Homo sapiens: one gene and its partner. The protein of the gene in region 2 purifies or fractionates together with the protein of the main gene of each other region. This does not show direct contact. Each region holds a gene or a part of one and is shown on either strand. Other genes may lie near its edges.

What was found. The genes of interacting proteins can lie anywhere in the genome.
Region 1: the proteins of PHF12 (region 2) and QSER1 purify together in Homo sapiens (affinity purification with mass spectrometry, with the first as the bait; one large-scale study listed by BioGRID). This does not show direct contact.

The regions. Positions count from the first base shown.
Region 1 is NC_000011.10:32,895,684-32,899,336, forward strand, and holds part of QSER1 (glutamine and serine-rich protein 1), read left to right. Parts: intron 1-3,653. UniProt on the Homo sapiens protein: Plays an essential role in the protection and maintenance of transcriptional and developmental programs.
Region 2 is NC_000017.11:28,944,917-28,948,569, reverse strand, and holds part of PHF12 (PHD finger protein 12), read left to right. Parts: intron 1-3,653.

The DNA.
Region 1 (3,653 bases), on a different chromosome or scaffold from region 2:
ACCTTGTTTCCTGTAACCTATTCAGAAGCTGACAGATGGTAATGACATTCAGTTGTTGCCGACAGGGATCTAACATCCTACTTTATGCCTTCTTGGTCTTGAAATACATCATTTTCATCAGTTGATGGGAAGGTACATGATAAACAGCTTTTCATGAGTTTGAAACAATACTTTTTTGAATACAACAGCTCTGTTAGTTATTAGGTAGTTTTATTGTACTAACAGTGGAAAAATAGAGTGGGAAACTCCAGCATTATACCTTAAATGGGGCTTATAGAAAGATTTTTGAATATTTCTCAGAGTACTTGCTAGGTACTTGGAAAGTACAGGGATAAGGACTGGCCATATAAATCTTCATTTATTTATGCTAATTTCAGTTCGTTTTAGGAACTAAATGAATGAACATGTCCTTTGCTGAACACCACGCAGTTGGAAATACCTTTTGGGGTGCAGTTTTGGATGTTGTAAATACCTTTGCATAGCTTGGGAAATAAGAAGGTCATCAAGAGTCTGCAGATCCATTGCCGCATTCTGTACTTGATACTTATATCTTGGTCACAACAGGAAGAGGCAGGCTGTTTTATGGTGATAATCGATGTGTTCGTATTTGAATATGCACCAGAAAGTAAGGGAATGGAAATATTTTGTATTTAAATAGGTTTATTTATTTTATTTTATTTTATTTTTTGCGATGGAGTTTCGCTCTTGTTGCCCAGGCTGGAGTGCAACGGCGTGATCTCAGCTCTCTGCACCCTCTGCCTCACGGGTTCAAGCAGTTCTCCTGCCTCAGCCTCCTGAGTAGCTAACCACACCTGGCTAATTTTTGTATTTTTAGTAGAGATGGGGCTTCACCGCATTGGCCAGGCTGGTAATTTTTGTATTTTTAGTAGAGATGGGGTTTCACTACATTGGCCAGGCTGGTCTTGAACTCCTGACCTCAGGTGATCCGCCCATTTTGGCCTCCCAAAGTGCTGGGATTACAGGTGTGAGCCACCGTGCCTGGCCTGTTTTTTGCCTTTCTAACTTGAAATAACTTTTGGCACCAGTTTTTAGAATTCCTAATGCATACTTTTTTTTAGTATGAGGTATAATGAGTATGATAAATACTCCTCTGAAAAACCAAAGTAATGATTAGCTCTTCTAAAACCTGTCAGTTTCTATATGATGGACATTTGTTTGATACATTTCAAATCTAGAGTTTTCCTCAAGGTTTTTGGGAAAAGGCCTTATAGATCATAATTTGTAAGGCGTAAGAACAATCTCAAGTTAATGAAAGGTTATTTCAGACAAACTTCCACTGTTAGAGTTCAGAAAGTTTTTTCCCATGGAAACCGTGTTGTAAGTAATAGTAGCTGTCATTTACATCACTAGCAACTAATTTGTGCTAGCTGTTTTAAGTCACACGTACATTCATTTATCAAAATTCATTTATCATGAATAAATGAATACATACATTCATTTATCAAAATTCATTATAAAAATCCTTTGAGGTAGGCATTCTTTTTACCATCCTTTTATGGATGAGGAAACTGAGGGATAGAGACATGAAGTAATTTATACCTACAGCTACATAGCTAGTAAATAGTGGTGCTGTGATTGAAACCTGGGCATTGCAGATCTGGAGCCTATGTGATAACCAGTGTACTGCACTGCTTTATTGTAAGATAGTGGAATGCTGTAATCCACCTATATGTGAAATGAGTTTCTGTGAGTTGGCCTGGAAACCTAAGCATCATTAATATCCTTATTTAAGTGTTCTTTGTCACCGTTGACCATTACCTAGTTGAAATACATTCCTTTTCACTTCCATAGCACTGTACTTGCCTGGTTTTCCTCCTACTTTTCTGGCCCAACGCTTTTTCCTGTTCTTCACTGGTGTTTACTCCTCTTCTGTCTAATCTCTGCATGTTACTGTTTCCTCAGGGCTTGGGATTGATAAATTTCTTGTTCATTCCTTGCTTTCTCCTGCGGACTCACATCCACGTCCATGCTTTTAAATACTATCTCAGTGGAGATGCCCATATTTGAGCAGACTCTTCTCAGGACCTCAGACTCTTCTGAAAACCTGATCACATAACCAACTACCTCTTTGACCTTTTACTTGAGCTTAATGATATGCTTTCCCCACCCATCACACCTCTGCTTCTCTAGTGAGGCCCATCTCAGTAGTCATACCTCTGTCCACTTAGTTGCCCAGGCCAGATGGTGGGAGTTGTGTGTGCTCAGTCACTAAGACCTACTGTTTTGAATCTAATGTCTTGAAACTGTCTGCTTCTTTTGTATCCACTGCTCCAGCTGGTCCAAGCCACCATTATTTTTCACTTGGACAACTGTGGTAGCTTCCTAACTTAGTCATCTTGGACCTTTTCTTTCCTCTCTTCAATTCATTCTTCTTATACCATCCAGAGTGATTTTTAAAAACACAGATCTACAAGTTTGCTCTTGGTCCTTTGCTTAAAGCCTTTCCATGGCTACTCCTACATATTAGGGTCACATTTTTAAACATCTGTAATATGGTCAGGCGTGATATCTCACGCCTGTAATCCCAGCACTTTGGGAGGCTGAGGTGGGAGTATTGCTTGAGCCCAAGAGTTTGAGACCAGCCTACGCAACGTGGTGAAACCCTATCTCTACAAAAAATAAATAGAAAAAATTAGCCGTGCATGGTGGCGTGCGCCTGTGGTCCCAGCTACTCTGGAGGCTGGGGTGGGAGGATGGCTTGAGCCTGGGAGGTGGAGGTTGCCGTGAGCTGTGATGGTGCCACTGCACTTCAGTGTGAGCGACAGAGTGAGAACCTGTCACACACACACACACACACACACACACACACACACACACACACACACATTGTAATGTGCTCTGTATGGCTCTGCGTTTACTGACCAATTTTTTTTAATTTATTTTCTTTTTTATTTTTTCTTGAGACAGGGTCTAACTCTGCTGCCTAGGGTGGAGTACAGTGGTATGAACACAGCTTACTGCAGCCTCGACCTCCTGGGCTCAGGTGATCCTCCCAAGTAGCTGGGACTACAGGCATGTGCCACCACACCTGGCTAATTTTTAAATTTTTTGTAGAGATGAGGTCTTGCTATGTTGACCAGGCTGGTCGGGAACTCTTGGCCTCAAGCAGTCTTCCTGCCTTGGCCTCTCAGGCGTGAGCCACCATGCCTCGCACTGGCCTGTATTAAATTCTTTGAATCATCCTAAATTCCTTCTTACCTTAAGGTTTTCATACATCGTCTTACCTTCACTTAGATAACTCTCACCCTATCCCCACCTCCCAGACTGACTTGTTAAGGTATCTCATGTGAGAAACCTGCAGTATTTTCAACCCTCACTCCTTGTTGCTTTGTGCAATGGTATATGTTTTCACAGAATATTTTATTTTACTTTCATATTCTTAGAAATATATACCTATGTATTGTTTATGTAATACGTATCTTCTTCAGAATGGAGGTTATTTGAAGAACCCCTATGTGTTTTGCTGTTATATTTGTAGTACTTAGTATTTACTTTAATCCATGGCATATAGTTGGTGCTTAATACATACTTATATCATGAAAGCCAGAACTCTGCTTCAGTGTGGGAATTGGAAGCCCCTTTCTTCCTGTTGCAGCCTCTAATGCCATTCCCCCTCTACCCTGTAGTTGGGA
Region 2 (3,653 bases):
ATTCCCAAGATACTTTTGCCCAGGAGGGCACCCCATCCCAGCTTGTAAAATTGCTGGGACAAAAATGATTATCGTAGAGGAAGTTTTGCTGCTGGCTTTAAAATTTTTATTATGAAGTGACTAAGGGTCTGTGGTTTTTAGCCTTTACTTCCTATAAGGTGTAATCCACCTGGAGAAGATATTTCTGGTCACATTTCTTTTGCTATTCTTAGGAGAAATTTGTGCCTGAATATACGTTGTGTTGCTTACCAGTTATTCCCAGTTGCTTACATTTTTTTAGTGTGTTTGTTTGGTATGTATACCAGGACTGAGTTGTAGACTTCTTGATTTAAAATGTGGGCTTACGTCCTACTCCTAGGATGAAATTGGTGTTAACCATGATTGCTGACATGCATGTTGAGTGAGAATTTGATAAGCTCTCTTATTTGATAAAGCTGAAATTGTTTATTAGAAACCTCAGGCATGGGAAAAGTGTGCTGTCTGTTTTGCCTGAGATTGGGCTTTTAAACTCTAAAACCTAACCTCTGAATTTTTTAATTAGACGAGTCTAAAGTCTTGTCAAGTTGTAACAATTAACAGTTTCCACTTTAGATGAAAGGAGAAAGAAGGAGGGACTCTTTAGCTGTTGGTGAGATTCAGACTTGCCCAGACTGTGCATTTCATTGAAATTTTTTTTTTTTTTGAGGCATTGAATGGGAACTGGTAATCAGAGATTTGTGAATGTGTAAATGAAGTAGTGCTTGTTTCACATCTCCAATTCTCCCTTTGAAGATGTCAATACTGAATGTACCATTGACTTATCTGAGTTATTATCTAAATCACAAAGCATTGTAGATATTGGTGCAAAGGCAGGAAGTCTTTTAAGTAGGTATTCCCTAGACGAATTTCATTTAGTGAGGCTTATCTCACTTTTCTGCGTCTGAAGCCACACTCTTTCCACCAAGAGTGAAGTTTTTTTTGTTGTTGTTTTTTGTTTGTTTGTTTTTTTCTGAGACAGGCGTCTTCGCTTTGTCACCCAGGCTGGAGTGCAGTGGTGCAATCTCGGCTTATTGCAACCTCCACCTCCCAGGTTCAACGGATTCTTCTGCCTCAGCCTCCCAAGTAGCTGGGATTATAGGTGCCCGCCACCACACCCAGCTAATTTTTGTATTTTTAGTAGAGACAGGGTTTCACCACGTTGGCCAGGCTGGAGAGTGAAGTATTTTATTAACTCAATCAGAGTAGTTAGATCAAGTATTTAATGTCTCAGAACATTTTTATTCTTGAATGTGTTTTCATGAATTTGTCCCAGCCGGGTGCTGTGGCTCACGCCTGTAATCCCAGCACTTTGGGAGGCCGAGGAGGGTGGATCACGAGGTCAGGAGTTCGAGACCAGCCTGGCCAACATAGTGAAACTCCGTCTCTACTAAAAATACAAAATTAGCCGGGTGTGGTGGCACGAGCCTGTAGTTCCAGCTACTCAGGAGGCTGAGGCAGGAGAATCACTTGAACCCAGGCAGCAGAGGTTGTAGTGAGCCGAGATCACACTACTGCACCCCAGCCTAGGTGACAGAGTAAGACCCCATCTCAGGAGAAAAAAAAAAAATTGTCCTATTACTGCTTAATTTTATCATGTGAGAGTAAGGTTATATTTCCTCTGGCTTCCCTTTTAAACTGGCTAAGACTGAATTATTTAGGTAGGCATGATAATGATAATTTTCCTTCCATACGGAAAGTACAAGAGTAAGGTTGAAGCCGAGTATGGTGGCTCATGCCTGTAATCCCAGCACTTAAAGGGGCCAAGGTGGGAGGATCGCCTGAGGCCAGGAGTTCAAGACCAGTCTAGGCAACATAGCAAGACTCCATCTCTACAAAATTTAAAGAAAAAGTGAAATTTAAATTTTGCAAATGCTGTAGGTCTTAATTGCAGTGCTGCTGTGGTTCTCTATCCAAAGCTCTGTGGGATAAGTCTTTTTTCAGTCTCTAGTATTCCTTGCCAGTCTGCCTCACTGTGAACGGAATCCAGTACAAGTGTTCCAAAAGTGGTTCTAGGCAAACTTTACCTCCCGGGCTTGGTAACACAGCTATAAACCACAGGAGATCTTTCTAAGATAAATAGTAAGGAAATGACTAGTCAAATAAGCTGTTTTAATTGTTGTCTTTTCTCAGGAGACAATGCTTTGTATGAGGCACGTCATCTCTTCCCAGTTAGACTGGGAACCTATTTCTGGGTTTTCTGTAATGATTCTCTGGAATGAATTGTCTTGTGCTCAGTACCGTGACCTCACCAAAGAATTAAGGTTGAAGAACTGATGTCTTTTTGATTAAGTGATAGTGTAATCATTTTATCCAAGTTTAACTGGTTTATCAATTATTCAGAGTGATAGTAGGGGTTACTAAACCTGTCCCTAGAGAATTGGAAAGAGATGTGTGTGTGGTGTTTTTGTTTTTGTTTTTCTGAGACGGAGTCTTGCTCTGTCACCGAGGCTGGAGTGCAGTAGCGCAATCTCAGCTCACTGCAACGCCTCCCGGGCTCAAGCAATTCTCCTTTCTCAGCCTTCTGAGTAGCTGGGATTACAGGCGCACGCCACCAGGCCTGGCTAATTTTCTTGTATTTTTAGTAGAGACAGGGTTTCACCGTGTTGGTCAGGCTGGTCTCGAACTCCTGACCTCATGATCCACCCGCCTCGGCCTCCCAAAGAGCTGGGATTACAGGTGTGAGCCACCACACCCGGCCATGGAGGGAGATATGTTTTTAAGTGTCCCTTGGTGAATCTGACTTCATCATAATTATCATGCCATGAGTTGAGCTTTCTGAAAGGTCTCTGGACTGATCCCAAAAAATCTGTTAAAAATTAGAATAACCAGTACAGCTTTACTTTTCACTGACCCATCTTTCTGTTTGAGATTGGTAGGATTGTTGTCATTGACAGAGTGAATACCATGGGGCATCAGTAATCAGGATGATAAAACTGACTGGTTTCCTGTGATTACCTTCTTATGGCATTTTGCTCCAAACAGACTGAGGGACCAAAATGGTCTGATAGAGAAGTGCATCTACCTCGGCAGACCTCAGCATGGTCCCTTCCCGTCAGACAGATTTCTGTAGCATTTGCCTCCGCGTGTTATATTTGGAATTGTTGGCCAGCTTTCCTCTCTCTGGTGTTGGCAGCGAGATCCAAAATGAGGTTTTCGAAGAATGAGAGTAAAAAGGTCTCTGTGCACAGGCAAAACTAAGCTCAGCTTGGAGTTTTGCATATTTTCAGTGAGTCGTAACAAAGGTTTCACACATAGAATAGAAAACTGCCTTGCAGAAAATGTTTGATGTTTGAAGTGGGGTTGTTTGTTTGTTTTTGGATACAGGGTCTCCAAGGCTTGATCCTAGCTCCCTGCAGCCTCAAACTCTGGGCTCAAGTGATCCTCCCACCTAAGCCTCCCAAGTAGTGGGACCACAGGAACATTCCACCATGCTGGGCTAATTTTTTAAATGTTTTTGTAGAAATAGGGTCTCACTATGCTGCCCAGGCACGTCAAGCAGTCCTCTCACCTTGGCCTCACAAAGTGTTGAGATTATAGGAGTGAGCTGTCATGCCCAACCTGTTTGAACTTTTAAGGAGGTGGTTTTTCTGATTTTGTTGTGTTTAGCTCCTCATTAGAATAGTATCAGGCAAGTG